Regions from separate parts of the Homo sapiens genome. Here regions 2 and 3 are each linked to region 1. Evidence: fine-mapped QTL for protein levels in blood plasma. A gene starts in region 1. Each other region holds a variant in brackets. All regions are shown on one strand. Distances are between the middles of the regions. Region 1 holds the start of CD300C (CD300c molecule). Region 2 holds the start of CD300A (CD300a molecule). Region 3 overlaps CD300A (CD300a molecule).

Evidence for each region. PIP is the chance, under the fine-mapping model, that this variant and not a neighbour inherited with it causes the effect. Protein levels are from antibody-based Olink assays in UK Biobank. Linkage for the fine-mapping came from a reference panel and not from the study's own genotypes, which makes the PIPs less certain.
Region 2: its variant is fine-mapped to the plasma level of the CD300C protein (UK Biobank, PIP above 0.99).
Region 3: its variant is fine-mapped to the plasma level of the CD300C protein (UK Biobank, PIP above 0.99).

The regions. Positions count from the first base shown.
Region 1 is chr17:74,542,004-74,547,499 of GRCh38, forward strand. CD300C (CD300c molecule) reads right to left here and starts at 4,112. Exons shown (of 4, transcript NM_006678.5): 1 at 3,719-4,112; 2 at 2,606-2,944; 3 at 858-984. The coding sequence starts at 3,779. It also overlaps a transcript of LOC107985074 not described here.
Region 2 is chr17:74,463,536-74,469,372 of GRCh38, forward strand. CD300A (CD300a molecule) reads left to right here and starts at 3,099. Exons shown (of 7, transcript NM_007261.4): 1 at 3,099-3,208. The coding sequence starts at 3,169. LOC124904056 (a long non-coding RNA gene) reads right to left here and starts at 4,239. Exons shown (of 2, transcript XR_007065899.1): 1 at 4,015-4,239; 2 at 473-1,215. RefSeq lists silencers at 3,591-3,650, 3,691-3,750 and an enhancer at 4,111-4,240. The variant AGAAAAGCAGAAGTC/A (reference allele first, on the strand shown) is at 3,070.
Region 3 is chr17:74,470,151-74,477,770 of GRCh38, forward strand. CD300A (CD300a molecule) reads left to right here. Exons shown (of 7, transcript NM_007261.4): 2 at 3,386-3,724; 3 at 4,382-4,535; 4 at 7,286-7,380. Among named protein-coding and RNA genes, the nearest start is that of CD300A, 7.3 kb to the left of the region's middle. The variant C/CA (reference allele first, on the strand shown) is at 2,087.

The DNA of each region.
Region 1 (5,496 bases):
CGCAGCTGTCTACCTCTGTGCTCCCCATGGAGGGTTACCCAGCTGGGGTCCCGGAATTCACAAAGGGTTATTTGTTTGGTGTCAACTCTCCTGTACACAGCGTTTCCAGGAGGGCAGGGACCATTTGTTTCATTCACAGTGAGTACCTGCTGCCTACCCGGAGTCTCCAATAATCTGCCCTACAACTTCAGTGGTTGTTGAAGGAATTAATGAATGGACAGCTCAGCTCTCAGCTCCTCAGAGGACTGGGCTTATCAAACAGGATGAAACTCTGGCCAGGGCTGCGAGAGAGGCAGGGGAGAGGACCAGGGCCACCGGACCCCAGAGCATCTGCCCCCTTCCCTGGCCTGGCCAGGTCCCAAGGCTCCTCGCAGGACATTTGCCTCACTCCTCCCTCCACCTGGACCCTTCTTCCTCCAGACCCCAGAGTGCCCAGCCCCCAACCCTTGAGGTCTCTGTGCTCATGTCCTCTAATTCTCAAACCCTCTTCTGATCATCGTCAGTGAAATAGCAACTCCAACACCTGCACACGCTCTCCCCAAACCCAAGAGTCAAACATCTCATCCCAGCATTCATTACCCTTTGCTGTATTTGTACATCAGCCTCTGTGCTGACTTGCTCAATGCGTGAATCCACGCAGTAGAACTCAACTTCCACCAGGGCAGGACAGTGGCTGTGTGGTTCCCTGCTGTGACCCAATCCCAAAAGGAGCGCCTGACACTTAATAGAACCTTCACGTTTGGTGTGGGAGGTGCGAACAAAGAAGGGACTGGAAGAAGGGACATCCGAGTCCCCTAAACATCACACGCAGTGGGGAGGCCGCCAGCGTGGCCCAGTCCTATGCGCAGGCACCTTACCCAGGGTGTGGGCTGGGTTCGGGGCTGTCCTTTCTGGTCACGCTGGGCCAGGTGTGCACGGGCAGCTTCGTGGGAGGACCTGAGGTGCCCATGGAGCTCTGGGGGCTGGAGGCTGTGGTCGTCCCGGCTGTGGGTGAAACACAGGTCAACCTTGATGACATCACATGGGTCTCCCACTTACTCTCACCTGTTCTGCTCCAATTTTCACAGACAAGGTCACCAATGATGTGCTGGACAGATGCCCTGCATCCATCATGCCCCACGGCCACACCCAGGCCTGACCAGGGTCCTGGGCCTCTCCTTGTCCCATCCCTAGGTACTGCAGAGCCAGGACACCATTTCAGATGTGAGAGCTGCCCTGCTCACCTGTGGCAAAGGTACGGGTCTCCAGGTTTCACCCCAGCCAGGGAGGGACAGGGTGACCTGGGGGAATGGGGTGATGTTTACTCTGCGAAGGGTGACCCAGAGTGACTGCGAAGCCAGGGCCCTGGGCACAGCAGTGGCTGGAGAGAGGCTGGAAGTGAGGACAGGAAGTCAGTGGGGTCCTCCCTGAACGATGGGACCCGAGTCCACTCAGCCCCAAATGGCAGCCATGCTGCGGCCCCACAAGGCCATTGGACCATCCTCTCAGCAGGAGGGAATGCCCAGGAAGAAAGATCTAGAGAGGGGATGCCCGGTGAAGCCTGGGCGGCGGCCCGTGGTGAATACAGCTGGATAAGGGCCCTTTCCTCCTCTCCCTGGCGCCCTCAGGTGGGATCTTAGCTCCTCACTCCTAGATAGGAAGGCACAAAGGGCGCAGGAGGGACACGTCGCCCCCGGGGAAATGGAGAACAAGAAGATGCTCCGAGGAACCTGGGACATTGTCAGAAGAAAACGATGGAAAAGCAACCACACTGAGGCCACTGGGTTTGTGTCTTGTGAGACAGGAGGGGGCCTTTGAGGGAAGAATGATCTTCGGCACGGGAAAGGGCCCTCAGGTCCGTGCCAGTCTCAGCTCATTTCCATCCACAGGTCCCTTTGCCTGAGGGGGCAATTTCTGGGGTTCCCTCCTGTGGTAAAAGGTGCCAGAGAATAAGGGGGACACACAGGTCAGCCTCAGGGGCAGGATGTGGTTCCCAGGAGCATGAGAACCCCACCCAGGGCTCTGGGGCTCCTTCCTGTGTCCTCCAGTGGCTGCTGCAGGAGCTCCCAGGACAGGGCTGTGAGGCTGCGGCCTCAGGACCCTCCAGACAGGGCGGCATCCATGCAGGCCCCAGGGCAGGGGCAGCCTTGAGTGAGAGGAGCCAATGATGGGGGGGTCCAATTCCCCGTGGGGAAGAGCGAGTTAGACCCAGGCGGGACAGTGGGCACCCTTCAGTATGGATCCGGCCCTTGTCAATACAGGGAGGTAGCAAGGACCCCAGAGTCAGGGGTGGCCTCACAGACCCCACCCAGGAAAGTTTCAGGCCTGAGGCCGTGAGGGAGGGCCCACAGCGGGGGGTCTCCAGCCACAGGGCCAGGGTGCTTTTGTGGGCGCCCACCCTCCCAACACACACATGCAGGTGCACACACACACAAACCACACCACAACTCCTATGCAGGCACGCATACACAAAGACGCACTCACACTCATCCACACACAGCGGCACACAGTGTCCTGACTCACCAACCCCCAGGCTCACACCCTCCTGTTCCACTTCTTTCTTCAGGGACAGAATGACCAGCCCTAGGCTCAGGCAGGCCTGGTGCTGAGAAAAGGAGGGGCTCACCCGGGAACACGGACACCTCAACCTCGACAATGGGATCATGAAAGTCTCGGAGCCACGGTGTATCCACCCCACACCAGTAGGTGCCTGCGTCCTCCTCTGTGAGATTCTCCAGGGTCACTGTGAAGCTGAGGTTTGCAGGACTGTCCCTGATGGACACTCGGCCATTCCTTTTCCCTGCTGACCCTTTGGTCTCCACAATCTTGTCACATCGGAGAATCTGTGGTGGTCTGCACCAGAATTTGTTGAGGGTCCTGTGTTCCTTCTCATAGCGACACTGCACACTCAGGGATCCCCCCACGGGGCCCGCCACGGTCATGGGGTGGCTCAGAGGAAAATAGCCTGAAAAATACAAGCCAAAATCCTGTCTCCTTACCAGAGGGGCCTGGTCAGGGGTGCCGCAGTGTCAGCCCCTCATGGACCCTGGGCGTGTGGAGAAGGCAATGGCAGGCAGGCAGCCTTTGTCCACCCAGGAACAGGGACTGAGGGTGGGAGGCTCCCTCTGTGCAGAGGTGGGAAGGGCATGGGAAGTTTCCATGGAGACTGGAAAGGCAAGGCTAGGGAAACACTGGGTGTGTGCGGGCCTGTGTGTGCATGTGAGTGTGACTCTGTGTGTGTGACTGTGTGAGTGTGACTGTCTGTGTGAGTGTGACTGTGTGTGACTGTGTGTGCATGTGTGACTGTGTGTGCATGTGAGTGTGACTGTGTGTGCATGTGTGACTGTGTGCATGTGTGTGTGAGACTGTGTGAGTGTGACTGTGTGTGCATGTGTGTGAGACTGTGTGAGTGTGACCGTGTGTGCGTGTGAGTGTGACTGTGTGTGTGATCGTCCCAGATAAAATTTGTGATTGGATAACTTTGGCAATGACAGTCACAGCATCACCTCCCACCAGGGCTTCCTGTCTCGGGCACAGAGGAATAGGCCTCCCCCGTGCTGTGCCCTGCCGCCTGCTGTCCCCTGGTGAGGCAGCTGCTGACCGCTCCTGGGTGCTCCTTTGCCCTCCTCCCCTCTCCCTGCCCCACTCCCCTCTATGACCGCTACTCCAGCGCCTGCACCCCTCCCTGCCCTCTCCCACTCAGGACAGAGCTCCCCAAGTCCAGGGTCGGCCCACTCACCTGGGACAAGCAGGAGGAGCAGAGCTGAAGACCGCCACGAGGCCCAGGCCCTGGCAGTCATTCCTGTAACACGAATGTCACCTGCCACTGTGCAAGACCCCAGGAGGGGACAAAATGTAATCTCCTCCCAGCAGATCTGAGCTTCGCTTCTGCTTTTCTTCTGCTCTCTGCTTCCTTGTCCAGCCCTGTCTCAGGTCTGAGGCTGGAGAGGGTCAGGGTACAGGAAGCTCAGGGAGAGAGCCGCCTGGGCTGAGGCCGGTGCTGACAGCTCTGGGATGGTGCTAGTGGCTCCTCTCAACCCTGACGTCTGGCAAAGTCCAGGGTCCCTTGGGTGGCGATGCAGCCACTTCCCCACAGCCCACAGCTTCTGGCTTCAGTGTGTTACTCACACTGCAGAAGGCAGAGCCAAGCTGGGCCATTTCCTACCACATGGGCTGCTCCACCCTCTGTGACATGTCACTTCCTGGTCAGGATGGACAATCTTGTGGTTGGAGGCTAAATCTGCCACCTTCTTTAGCCTTGGAGGTGACCAGAGAGAGGTTGTGTCCCTTAATCTTCAGCTAGGTCCCCGCAGAGACCTCTGCCCCTAAGACCCCCAGCTCTTCTTCTGGCCTCAGAAGTTAGCGCTATGAACCCAGACACCATCTGCATGTCCCTTTTTGGTGCTGAGTCCCCAACCAGGTTAAAATCCCACAGGCTTGGGGAGTTTTCCTCTTGTGCCCCTGCCCCCAGACCTACACACACAGCGGCATCACCCACCCGAGACCCTCCTTTTCCATCTTGTCTTCTTGCCAAAATCCATGCCCCAGTGGGAATCAGGGCAGAGAACTGAGAATAGAGAGAGAGTTCAGACATGTGAAGATGCTGAAGTGGGACTTTGTGGAGGATGTGAGGCTGCGACTGAGCCAGCACACACCCCAGGGCACACGGAGGGGTGTTTGGTGACTGAGAGGACAGTTTGTCATGAGCAGCGGCTGCTGGTGTCTATCCTGGGTCCACTGTGATGGCCAGGGGCCTCCGCAGGGAGCAGACATGGCAGACAGGCCTTCCCAGGAGGCGGGAACCCAGGTCTATCCACACTCGGCATGGCTGGTTCTCCTGACGTGATGGGCTCAGGGTGTCTTTACCCTGGAAAGGGCAAGGAGGCTAGTCAGACACAGGATTTACCTCCTGTCTGTCCTGGAGGGCATCACCCCTTCTCCACCTTCTCATGCCTTAAGCATATTCCTTGACTCTCCCAACCCTCCTACAGATTTCTGTTCCTTTCTTCCTATCAGAGTCAATAGCACCAGTATGTGCACACAGCCATGAGGTTGAGTGGAGAGTGATGGGAGTCTGGGCAAACCTGGCACCATGAAGGGGTCTCTGCACCCTCGACCTGCCCTGTCCTCCCTCCATTTACACTCTCAGGGACACAGCATGCACTGGGGTCATTGGTGTTGATGCCCCCAGACTCACATCATGGGACTATCTCTAGCCCAGTGCAATCCCAGGGCCTCCAATTAGCCCAGTGCTCAGGTCTGGCCTGGGCCTGGCTTTGAAGTATCCCGGCTCTTTCATGGGCTGACCTGGTCTCCCCTTCTGCTCATACCCACCCCTTTCATTCTCCACAGAATCAGCAATGTGATCCCTGACACACACACATGGCCCTGGGGAGGCGCTGCTGAACTCCCAATGGCTCCTGCTGTCACAGGATGGCACCCACCTGACCTGGCCTCTGCACACAGGTCCTGGCAGGCCCCAGCACCTGGTAGGTGTCTCCAGCCTCCTGGATCCAG
Region 2 (5,837 bases), 78 kb before region 1:
TGTCCACACCAGGAAGAGACTCCAGAGCTGATCAGAAGTTTTGTGGCTGCTGTGGGACCACTTCTCACCCTCACCCCTGGGAAATGGGCCTCAGCCCTGTGGCCTCATCTCCTCCTCCCCCTGAGTCATGTCACCTGATGGTTATCGGGACACAGCCGGAATGTGCAACTTCCGGCAAAAAACTCTCATGTTTTGTGGTTATTTTGCACCATTTTGTTTCTTCCTTTGGGTTTGTGGACAGGATGGGGTGAGCAGGATGGGCGTGGCAGGGTCTAAGTCCCCTGATCCCTTCTCCTTTGCAGTAAGTCAGGTGTTTCTCTATGTGCCTAAGGAGAATTGCATCCCATAGATTAAAGTGTAAAGCGCACTTCCTGTGGAATCCAATTTTCCTATTACCTTTCATCAAAAGTAGAGATATATTCCCTCAGAAAAAACTGACCTGAGGATGTTAAGGAACACTGACATTTCAGTATTTGTATAATCATAATAATATTTATTCCCACAGAGGAGCTGTCATTATTGACGTTTTACAGAAGCCACAGGCTTTGCTCAAGTTCATTCGGTGGTAAGTGGACAAGCCACGCCAGAACTTAGCCTTCTGCTTCTCTGTCTGGCCTGGACGTTCAAGATTGCAGCAGCGCCTTTTTGGTCATGGTTGAATCAAAAAATAATTTTTGAGAAACTTTGCAATGATCAGGCCACATAAGCCACCGAATATGACACATCTCCTGCATTTTTATGTTCAGCTCAACAGTGTCATGATCCAAAGTGTCTTGGATCTTTTTTTTTTTGAGACGGAGTCTTGCTCTTGTCACCCAGGCTGGGGTGCAATGGCACGATCTTGGCTCACCGCAACCTTTGCCTCTCGAGTTCAAGCGATTCTCCTGCCTCAGCCTCCCGAGTAGCTGGGATTGCAGGTGCCCGCCACATTTTTTTTATTTTTAGTAGAGACAGGGTTTTGCCACGTTGGCCCGGCTGGTCTCGAACTCCTGACCTCGTGATCCGCCTGCCTCGGCCTCCCAAAGTGCTGGGATTACAGGAGTGAGCCACCGCGCCCGGCCCGAAGTGTCTTGGATCTTAATGAGGTTTAGTTAATCTATGACTGCATCATCATGAAAATTTCCACAATGTCCACCAGGCTTTGTCATTGAATCTTCCAGCAGCAGAGCCCATAGGTCTCCTTGGCTTCCTGACACCTTCGTGGGCAAGGCGCCCCTGTGTTCAGAAGGAAGAGGAAAGTGACAAATTCCAAAAAGGGCCAGAGGGAAGGATATTCTTGGGATCCCATAGCTGGCACAGGGCTCCATGTGGGTGGACACTCTGAGCTTGGGGACTGCAAGCTCCCAGGTGACGCATTACACATTAGGAGTGGCATTTCCTGTGCCCACCTGGTCATTCTGTGCAAGCTGGGGCACCTACTCAAGGCACGTGTGTGAGACTGTGTGTGTGTGAGTGTATGTCACTGTGTGTGAATGTGTCAGTGTGTGAGTTTGTGTGTGAATGTGTGAGTGTATTTCAGTTGTATATGTAAGTGCGTTGTGTGAATTTGAGTGTTTCAATGTGTGAATGTGTATGTGTGTTTGTATCAGTGTGTGTGAATTTGTGTTTGTGTGTGAATGTGAGTTTGTGAATGTGTGTGGGTGAGAGTGCCTGTGTGTTTGTGTGTGTGTATATGTGTGTGTGCATGAACGTGTGTTTGTGAATGTGTGCGTATGTGTGTGTTTGTGAATGTGTGTGGGTGTGTGAATGTGTTTGTGTGAGTGTATGTGTGTGGGTGTGTGTGAATGTGTGTGTATGTGAGTGTGTTTGGGTGAGTGTGTGTGTATGTGAGAGTGTGAGTGTGTTTGTGTGTGTTTGTGTGTGGGTGTGTGAATGTTTGTGTGTGTGTGTGTATGTGCATGAACGTGTTTGTGAATGTGTGTATGTGTTTGTGTGTACGTGTGTGTATGTGTTTGTGAAAGTGTTTGTGAATGTGTGTGTGAGTGTGTATATGTGAGTGTATGTGCATGAACGTGTTTGTTTGTGAATGTGTTTGTGTGTATGTGTGAGTGTGAATGTGTGGGTGTGTGTGAATATGTGTGCATGTGAGTGTGTATGTGAGTGTGTGTTTGTGAATGTGTGTGGGTGTGTGAATGTGTGTTTGTGTGTATGCGAGTGTGTTTGTGAATGTGTGGGTGTGTTTGTGTGTTTGTGAATGTGTGTGGCTGAGTGTGTTTGTGTGTGTTTGTGAATGTGTGTGGGTGAGTGTTTGTGTGAGTGTGTATGTGAGTGTGTTTGTGAATGTGTGTGGGTGAGTGTGTTTGTGTGAGTGTGTATGTGAGTGTGTGTTTGTGAATGTGTGTGGGTGAGTGTGAGTGTGTGTATGTGAGTGTGTGTTTGTGAATGTGTGTGGGTGAGTGTGTGTGGGTGTGAGTGTGTATGTGAGTGTGAGCGTGTGTGTGTTTAGAGTCTGCACTCTGTGTGGATCAGGAAAGGGGTCCTTGCAGGCTCGCTGAGTCCCTGCTCTGTGCCCAGCCCCGAGTTGGCTCCAATGGGGCTATATAGAAAGGAAGGCATGGCCGGAGGACCTCTGTGTCAAGTTGAGGACACATTTCCAAGACTAGGAACCATTCAGGGACTCTGGAGTCACGATGACAACTCCCCTTCCCTCAGCCCCGAAGCCCAGGCCTGGACCTCCAAGGGACTCAGGGAAGGGACTCAGGAAAGGGGAGTTCCCCCTGGCAGCCTCCTCGTGGGCACCACCGAGGGTGAGAGGAGCCAGCTCAGCGGGTCCCACCCCCAGGGTTGCCCACCTTGACCACAAGGAAAGGAGGGAGGAGTTATTGGGCCTTCCACTAGGAGGAGACCCGGGGAAGTGAGAGTCGGGGATCAGTCCTGCAAGCTACGGAGTCACTACAGGGAGAGGTCTCATCACTAGAAATAGCCGAAGAACCTGCAGCCTCAACCAGCGTTAAGGAGGACGTGCCGTTTCTAGGGAGTCTTAGTCGGGGCTCACCAGCTTCCTGCATTTTCTGACCGGCTCCAGGAATAGAACCAAAAGAAGCTGAACAAGGAAGCAGCGCGGCACCA[AGAAAAGCAGAAGTC/A]GGGGCCTTGGAGGCGTGACTTTCCCCTCGGGTCCAGGTAGGGCCTGGAGCTGCTGCAAGTGCCGCCTGTGCTGGGGAAGGGACCATGTGGCTGCCTTGGGCTCTGTTGCTTCTCTGGGTCCCAGGTGAGAGTTTCCCTTCCCGGGAAAGTCTGCGGCAGGGAGGGAGGGTGCGAGGGGCAGGGCCGCAGGGCAGGTATCACACGAGACGCCCCGAGTCTGGACTCCGTGCAGAACGCAGAATGCGGTGCGCTCTGTCTACCACATAAGATGGACAGATGAAGGTCCACACCCCTGGGAGAGGAAGGAGCCAGGGCCTCTCCCGGCTCTGCACCCACGTACCTTGGCTGAACCACAGCGGGGCAAGTGATAAGGGGTGGGTGCAGAAAAGGGACCTTTTAGGTTTTCAGTTGAATTCTTACAGGAAGGGGGACGAGAGGCAGGATGTGTCAGGGTGGGTGGAGAGTGGCAGCCACTGACTGCGAGGGGCATGTGGTGAGGGTGGGGGAGATGCCGGGCTCACTGGGTGCAGGGTATGGAGGAGGGGGGTGTGGGGAGGGTGGGGGAGATGCCGGCCTCACTAGGTGCAGGGTACGGAGGAGGGGGTGGGGCGGTGAGGGAGATAGGGTCGGGGTGGGGAGCAGATCGATAGTCTCTGGAATGCGGAGATTTAACCAGGGCAGCCCAGCGGCTGGGGCCTGAGCAGGGGGAAGTCCCGAGGCAGCCTTGGCTGGGGTTAGCCCCTGCATGGGCCTGAGAACCAGGGGTCAGTCCTCTCCAAGAAGGGGATATGGGACAGAGGGGACAGAAAAGGTGGTGGGGAGGGCGAGGAGGGAAAAGATCGGGCAGAGAAGCGCTGAGATCTTCTTTAGGGAGAAGCGTGGAGTTGAGTCTTCCCTGTCCAAGCGCAGGGATTCCTCCCGCAGAGTCACCTGCTGTGCCTTCAGTCACGTCCACCGCTCTCCTCAGACAGCTCCTGTGCAGACTCCTCAGGCCTAGTCCTAGGGTATTGTACGTCTTTGTGGTTGCTTTCCTTACAGATCGGAGGTTTTCTGCAATTATATTTGCTAACTACTTGTCTGTGGGAAGGTTATTACTTTTGGTGTCTTGACTTGGAAACGGGTCATCCTCCCATAACAGGTGCTCCTGCGATTCTCTTGGGTGTTCTTCTGTTTCATAGGGTCGGTGTGCATGGGAAGGTTTCAGTTCCTGTCTAATATCTGTTTCTCTTTCTCCCATTGACTCATTGGCTGGTACAGCCGGAGTGAGGCCCAGCGGACATAGTGGTAGTGGTTGTCCCTGCCTTGTTGCTGACTCAGGGAAAAAGGACCAGAGCTTCTCATTATTAGGAAGAAGGGATCCACCAATGACTATTCACAAAGCATTTTTACTTTTATTTATTTATTTATTTATTTATTTATTTATTTATTTTTTGAGATGGAGTTTTGCTCTTGTTGCCCAGGCTGGAGTGCAGTGGCGCGATCTTGGCTCACTGCAACCTACGCCTCCCAGGTTCAAGTGATTCTCCTGCCTCAGCCTCCCGAGTAGCTGAGATTACAGGCATGTACCACCATGCCTGGTTAATTTTGTATTTTTAGTAGAGATGGGCTTTCTCCATGTTGGTCAGGCTGGTCTCAAACTCCCAACCTCAGGTGATCCACTCACCTTGGCCTCCCAAAGTGCTGGGATTGCAGGCGTGAGCCACCAAGCCTGGCCAACATTTTTATTTTTTTGAGACAGGGTCTCCCTCCGTCACCCAAACTGGAGTGCGGTGGTGCAATCACGGTTCACTGTAGCCTCCACCTCCCGGGCTCAAGTGATCCTCCCACCTCAACCTCCCCAGTAGCTGAGACTACAGGTGTGTGCCACCACACCCAGCTGGATTCTTAATTTTTTTTAGGGACAGGGTCTTACCATGTTGCCCAGGCTGGCCTCCACCTCCTGGGATCAAGGGATCCTCCCATCTTGTCCTCCCAAAATGCAGGGATTACAGGCATGAACCACCACACCTGGCCCCTACAAAACATTTTTTATTTTATTTTTATTTATTTTTTTGGAGACAGAATCTCACTCTATCACCCAGGGCTGGAGTGCAGTGGCTTGATCTCAGCTCACTGCAACCTCCGCCTCCCGGGTTCAAGTGATTCTCCTGCCTCAGCCTCTTGAATAACTGGGCTTACAGGCACCCACCACCACTGCTGGCTAATTTTTTTGTATTTTAGTAGAGACGGGGTTTCACCATGTTGCCCAAGGTGGTCTCGAACTCCTGAGCTCAGGCAATCTGCCAGCCTTGGCCTCCGGCCCCCACAAAATACCATTTTTATTATTTATAGAAATTATTATTATTATTATCCTTTCAGCTATGAAGGAGGTGAACTACATTAGGAGATCTGGTCAGATGTTTGTCTTGATTTATTATGCTGGCTTCATGGAAAGAATTAGGGAGATCTCCCTGTTTCCGTGTTCTCTGCAAATGTTTACATAAAATTGAAATTATTTGTTCCTTGAAGTTTTTAGAGAACTAGCTTGTAAAACTGTCTGAGTTTTGCTTCTTTTTTTTTGATGGAAGGGAAAGAATTTCTTAATAACACTCATCATTTTTGGTCTACATTAAAAAAAATCTAGCTGGGTGCAGTGGCTCACACCTGTAATCCCAGAATTTTAGGAGGTTGAGGTGGGAGGATAGCTTAAGCCCAGGAGTCCGAGACTGGCCTGGGCAGTATAGCAAGCAAGACCCCGTCTCTTAAAAAAAAAA
Region 3 (7,620 bases), 71 kb before region 1:
TTAGAGGGGTTTGGGGTGGTGATTCAGGTTGGAAGAGAGAAAGCGCAGAAACACAAGCCTGGGAGCACTGGGGATCCATGTGATCGTTCCAGGTAAGTGGGGAAGTAAATGGAGGGTTTTCTGACACTTCGCAATCTCTAAATTATAATGACACCCTCACAGGTGGAACAGAGCTTTGGGGAGATGATTGGGTGACAGTTTTTTATCCAAGATTTCAGAGAAGAGAAGTTAATCAGGAGAGAGAGAAAGAGAGAGAGCTAGAGGGAGAGAGAGAGAGGGAGAAAGAAACTAAATCCGAAGGGAAGTCAGACACTGGAGGTAGGACGAGAGACAGGATTGGGTGCAGTGGGCAGAGGTGGTGGGGTCACTGAGGTCAGGAGAGAAGCCAAAACATGGACAAAGAAAGATGACGATTCGCAGCCCAGGAGAGGCAGGGAATCGGGTCAGGACAGGGAGCAGGAACAGTGTCTTGGGTGAAGGAGGGCTGGGAACTGACAGTTTTTATTTATTTTTTTTGAGATAGAGTCTCACTCTGTCGCCCAGGCTGGAGTGCAGTGGTGTGATCACAGCTCACTGCAACCTCCACCTCCTGGACTCAAGTGATCCTCCCGCCTCAGCCTCCTGAGTAGCTGGGAATACAGGCACGTGCCACCATGCCTGGCTAATTTTTTGTGTTTTTGGTAGAGATGGGGGTCTCACCACATTGCCCAGGCTGGCCTCAAATGCCTAAGGCTCAAGCAATCCTCCCACTTTGGCCTCCCAAAGTGCTAGGATTACAGGCATGAGCCACTGCACCTGGCCTATTTATTTATTTGAGTCAGGGTCTCACTCTGTCACCCAGGCTGAAGTGCAGTGATGCGATCATAGCTCACTGCAGCCACAACCTCCTGGGCTAAAATGATCCTCCCACCTCAGCCTCCTGAGTAGCTGGGACCACACGTGTGCACCAGCACACCTGGCTAATTTTTGTATTTTTTTGTAGAGATGGAATCTCACTATGTTGCCCAGGCTCCATTTACTTATTAAGTACTTAATATGTGTCAATTTTAGTGATTTGTGTTTTTCTAGAAAATAACTTTCATCTAAGTTTATGAATTTTATGTAGAGAATTTCTGCAAAATATCTTGACTCTTCATTCTTTCTTCATCTATGGTCCTTTTCTCTTGTCATGTCTTATTTAGTCAGCCCAGAGGTTATCTATTTTTATTAGCTGGAGTCATGTGAAACCCTGTTGTCTTGGTCAAAAAGTTTAATATCAGCCATTTCATGTGATTCAACCTAATGTTATTTACCAGGCATTTTATACCTGTGATCTCATTTAACACCCTCAAAGGCCATATGAGTCAGGGACAATTGTCACCACTCTATAGACAAGGTGTCTGAAGCTCAGAGAGGTTAACTAACTTGCCCCAGAACACACAGCTGATACGTAATAGGGTAGAGATGTAAACGCAGATGGTTCTGAGGATCTTTCTGCTTTGTCCTGGCAATTGCTGCTGAGAGCCTCAGGAAGCATCACACCTGTGACAAGCTTAGAAAGGCCTTCTCTGCAGGGGGATGTGTACATCCAGGCGTGGAGAGGTTTGGGTGGGACTCTGGGAGAGGCACAGAGGAGCTTATCTTTGGGCAGCCGTGGGCTGGGTGTGGAGCTAGTGGGGTCCAGGAGAAGCTTGCACTGAAGTTTTTGTAGAGGGCCTACAGGTGCAAGGCACCTGTAGACGTTGAAGGTATAAGAAGGAGACCCCTACCAAAGTCTCATGTGTGAGGAGATTTAGCATCTGAAACAGTAAGTAAAATTAAAGAGTTCTGGCCAGGCGCAGTAGCTCATGCCTGTAATCCCAGCACTTTGGGAGGCCGAGGCAGGTGGATCACCTGAGGTCAGGAGTTCGAGACCAGCCAGGCCAACATGGTGAAACCCTGTCTCTACTAAAAACACAAAAATTATCCGGGTGTGGTGGACGCCTGTAATCCTAGCTACTCGGTAGGCTGAGGCAGGAGAATCGCTTGAACCCGGGAGGCAGAGGTTGCAATGAGCCGAGATCCCGCCACTGCACTCCAGCCTGGGCAACAGAGCAAGACTCCATCT[C/CA]AAAAAAAAAAAAAAATCAAAGAGTTCTAACCCAAGGAAAGAAGAGCAAGCCCCCATCCCCACCATCCTTGAACAATATGGGGCCTAATCACAGAATTACAAGGGCATTGAGACACTGCACACACAACTGCCCAGCAGGCCTGTGCCCATCTGCCTGGGGCAGGGGCCATGTGTCCTCTGCTTGGCAGCCAACACTAGCTTCGAGCCATCACCTTACTCTCCTTGCTTTGCATCTGATAATTATTTGGGAAAATGTCAGACATAATTTTCAAGGAAGTTCATTTATTTCCGAGATTTAAGTCTAGGAGAGCTGGGCAAACTAAGGTAAGACACAGGATGAAAGTTTTCGTCAGCAAGCCTTCTGCGTTTGTGACTCTTTTTTTTTTTTTTTGAGACAGAGTCTCACCCTGTCACTCAGGCTGGAGTGCAGTGGTGCCATCTCAGCTCAACATAACCTCCGCCTCCAGGGTTGAAGCGATTCTTGTGCCTCAGCCTCCCCAGTAGCTGCAATTACAGGCGCATGCCACCACGCCCAGCTAATTTTTGTATTTTTAGTAGAGACAGGGTTTCACCATGTCGGCCAGGCTAGTCTCGAACTCCTGGCCTCAAGTGATCCACCCACCTTAGCCTCCCAAAGTGCTGGGATTACAGGCATAACCCACTGTACCCAGCCAGTATTCTTGTCAAAATGGCTTGACAACCCTATTACTGCCCGGGTTTGCCCCTTGGTGGGACCAGATCAGTGTGTGGGCCGGTCTTCCTCTTGCAGGGTTGCCCAGGGCTGGGGTGGCCCTCCCGGGAGTGCAGGTGCTTAGGGGTGAGTTCTCATGCTCCTGGCAGGTTTGGAAGCAGGAGGCCCCTGGTGGGTGAGAGGGGTGGGAAGGGTAAGGGAAAGGAGGCAGGGGGCTGGAGAAAGGGGCTACTATGAGCAAAATCTTGAGGGTGGTAGAGCAGAAAAGAGAATACTCAAGCTGTGATCTGGCTGATGGGGCTGATATGAGGTGAAGGAGTCAGGGGCTGAGGGCTGGGGGTGCTGATGTGGAGTCGGGGAATCTTTGGAGGAGGTGACTCCAGGGCACCCAGCCTGAGCTCTTCCGGTCTCCATGGAAAGCCTCTGCCCCATTCCCACCTGTGTGCGGAGGTAGCCTCTCATCCTCAGTCCCCGCTCCTGGGTGGACAAGGCCTCTCTGCCTGCCGCTGCCTCCTCCACACCCCCAGGGTCCATGCGGCCCTGACCCCAGGGCACCCCTGACCAGGCTCATCTGAGGAGGAGCTGGGACTCTGGCTTGTGTTTTCCAGGATGTTTTGCTCTGAGCAAATGCAGGACCGTGGCGGGCCCCGTGGGGGGATCCCTGAGTGTGCAGTGTCCCTATGAGAAGGAACACAGGACCCTCAACAAATACTGGTGCAGACCACCACAGATTTTCCTATGTGACAAGATTGTGGAGACCAAAGGGTCAGCAGGAAAAAGGAACGGCCGAGTGTCCATCAGGGACAGTCCTGCAAACCTCAGCTTCACAGTGACCCTGGAGAATCTCACAGAGGAGGATGCAGGCACCTACTGGTGTGGGGTGGATACACCATGGCTCCGAGACTTTCATGATCCCGTTGTCGAGGTTGAGGTGTCCGTGTTCCCGGGTGAGCCCCTCCTTCCCTCAGCGCCTAAATAGGCTCAGGTTGGAATTGTTGGGGCAGGAATCAGATCAGAGACGTGAAGCAGACAGTGTGTGTGTGTGTGTGCGTAAGAGAGAGAGAGGTGGGGGCCAGGGGAACACAGTCAGGGGGTCTCTCCTGGAGCAGCTGACATGTCTGCCCAGTATTGAAGAAGGGAAGGGTCCAGTGACAGGGAGGCTGAGAGAGCGTTGCCTGTGAAGGAGCCAGGAGCGCACCTGTGGCTCAGCCCCAACGGAAGTGCAGCTGAGTGGGGGAGGGGTGGGGCTGAACAGAGAGGCTGGGGGGCCAGATGGGAAGCTGCTGTCCTCAGGGGGAGCCTTACCACATGACAGGTCAGATTTGCAGTGTAGACAGACTCCTCTGCAGCATGGAGTTTCGCAGGAGCACCTGGACCCTCATCAGCAGGATGGAAAATCAGGACCACTGGGAGTGGCACCCGTGTCCTGTTCAGAAATGCCCAGTTGGCCCAGGAGGGTCCTGGAGAGACTCTAGCCCCAGGGTCCTGCATCCTGCCCCCTTCCTTAGTGGGCAGTTTGTGTGAAATCAAACCAAAAAGGCATCCTGAGTGGTGGGAGAGCCAGAGGACAGCTCCCTGGGTCTGACTTGTGGTTTTGCCACCAGCATCAACGTCAATGACACCTGCAAGTATCACTGCGGCCAAGACCTCAACAATCACAACTGCATTTCCACCTGTATCATCCACTACCCTGTTTGCAGTGGGTGCCACCCACAGTGCCAGCATCCAGGAGGAAACTGAGGAGGTGGTGAACTCACAGTAAGCACCCTAGCCCCTGAGACATGGAGGGGGCCCTGTGCTAAGAGGAGGAGCCCAGGGCGGGGACCTTGGCCATGTGGGCCAGCTGGAGGTGTGCATCGCTCCCTTTGCCCCAGGCCCAGGTTGGAAGCCATAGTCTGAACACCCCGGCTTGGACCTGCCCTTGGCTTTGGAAGGGGGCTCAGGTAGGGGGGAAGTTGGGGGGCAGATGGAAGGAAAGTGATAGTTACTGACAGCTGGTAACATCCTACGAGGCCCGTGTTAGATGCTTCACATGAGTATTCTCACTTGCCTTTCACTGCAGCCCTGTACTGTTGTCATTCCGTGTATTAGTCTGTTTTCGCACCGTTGATAAAGACATACCCGAGACTGGATAAATTATAATGAGAAAGAGGTTTTAATGTACTCACAGTTCCACATGGCTGAGGAGGCCTCACAATCAAGGCAGAAGGCAAAAGGCATGTCTTACATGGCAGCAGGCAAGACAGAGAATGAGAACCAAGCAAAAGGGGTTTCCTCTTATAAAGCCATCAGACCTCGTGAGACTTATTCACTACCACAAGAACAGTATGGAGCAAACCACCCCCATGATTCAGTTATCTCCCACTGGGTCCCTCCCACAACACGTGGGAATTATATGGGAGCTACAATTCAAGATGAGATTTGGGTGGGGACCCAGCCAACCCACATCAATCCCCATTTTACAGATGAGTAAACTGAGACTCAGCGAGGTGAAGCAATTTGCCCAGTCAAGTAGCTACAAGAGGCTAAGGCTAAGCTTCCAATTCTGGTTTATGTGACTCCAGAGCCTTGAGTTCTCCTCTCTAAATAGTGGTTCTTAACCTTTTTCGGGTTCACCAACCCCACATAGAATCTGACATCTATGGACACTCTCCCCAGAAAAACACATGCAGTCACAAACCTTTTCTGGGATTCACGGACTCCCTATTCTAGCACAAAACCCCACAATTCCATCCTGGCACTATCCACCCAGAGTTAGTGCAGACCCCACAGGTGAAGAGCTTCCACATCTAAATCAGATCCCACAAGACCGCCCTGATTTAGATGCCAGTCGAACTTTGGGGATCCCCAGGCCACCACACTTCTGACCAACTGGATGCAAATTTGGGGGTTCCCAGGACCCCCCCAGGTTCAATAATTTGTTAGACTCAGAACTCTGGAAAGCATTATACTTACAATTACAGTTTTATCATAAGGATAAAGGATAAAGATTAGGACCAGCCAATGCAGAGACACATAGGACAAGGCTTGGGAGGATTCCCAAACAGTTTCTGTGCCCTCTCCAGGTGGAATCAGGGAGCATCACCTGCACCCTCCCTGCGGCACCTCAATATATTTATCAACCAGGAAGCTCCTCCAAGCTTTGGTGTCCAGAGTTTTTATTGGGGTTTCATTACATAGGCATGATGTGATTGAACTGTCTCCACCTCCAGTCCCTCTTTGGGAGGTTGGGCTGGCTCAGGGCTCCAAATCTCTAATTACGTAGTTGGTCTTTCTGGTGACCAGCCCCATCCTATTGTCTCATCTCTTACCAAAGTCCAGGTGTGATTCATGAACAACAAAGACACTCCTAATTTTTGGGACATTCCAAGGATTTAGAGCCTCCCTCCTAAGAGCTAGGGACAAAGGCCAGCCAGATTCTTTACTGGACAACATCCATAAACCCCTCCACAGGCTTCTGCCAACATATAAGACAAGGCAAAATTCAGGCTTGAACATGCCACTTCCAGAAGTTTAGCCTGTAGATACACATAGGTGGCAGCGCTGAGTTCTGTGGGGCCTGAAGGTTGTGCAGTTTGCGGGGTGGGTTGGTGGGTGGGTAATCTAAGAAAAAGATGAGAAAATTATGAATGCAAACGTAGGCATGAAGGAAAGGGCCCAAGCAATGGAGGGACCTGAAGCTGGGCTGCATCAGCCTCCTGGTCAATCTGCTGCTGCGTGGTCAGGTGTGAAAAGGTGGAGCTGCAAGGCGATTTATAAGCAACGTTTACCATTGCAAAGGACTGGGGAAATGCCCATTCAGTGGGAACATTTAAATAAATCACAGTCTATCCATGTGTTGGAATACCCTGCAGCTATAGGAAAGAGTGAGGGACTTCTTTATGTACTGACGTGGAAAGACCTCTAAGATGTATTGCTAAGTAAAACCAGAATAGTGTTAGACGAGGCCTCCTTTGTGTGAAAGAGAAAGGAGATCCCGTACATTCGTATTTGCTTGTATACACATAAAGAAACTCTGGAAGGTTCTTAAGAACAGCACGTGTGTGTATGTGGGGAAATTGGGGAATGTGTAAATGGGGGGTGTGTAGAAAGGGGGCTTTATACTGTCTATTTTTTTTAATTGACCTTATCTATCTACTTAAAAAGTTAGAGAAGGAGACCAGGTATATTGGCTCATGCCTGTCATCCCAGCATTTTGGGAGGCTGAGGCAGGAGGGTGGCTTGAGCTCAGGAGTCTGAGACCATCCTGGGCAATATAGCAAGATTGAGTCTCTACGAAAAATTTAAAAATTAGCCGTGGTGGCCTGTGCCTGTAGCTGGAGGCTGAGGCAGGAGGATCACTTGAGCCCAGGGGTTCAAGGCTGCAGTGAGCCATGATCACCACTGCACTCCAGCCTGGGTAACAGAGCCAGATCCTGTCTCAAAAAATAAAAATAAAAAATAAAAATAAAAAAGTAAGTTGGAGAAGGCAAGTTGGCCCCGCCCTTACCATCCTGTGCCTCCTCCAGGCTCCCGCTGCTCCTCTCCCTGCTGGCATTGTTGCTGCTTCTGTTGGTGGGGGCCTCCCTGCTAGCCTGGAGGATGTTTCAGAAATGGATCAAAGGTGAGTTGGCTCCCCACACCCCTCTGCCCCACCTGGGGTGGTCAGACCCTGACCACAGACGCTCATCTTCAAAGCTATGTCCACGTCCCACAGTATTGCTATGACATGTGACACCCAGACCACACATCCTAGGTGATCCTACAGGGCAGGTCCCATGGGAGGCATCCTTGTGCGTGGTGGTTACAGGCTGTGAGAGGTGGCTCCCAAGCAGGAGGCTTTCCCACTTCCAGGCCAAGGGTG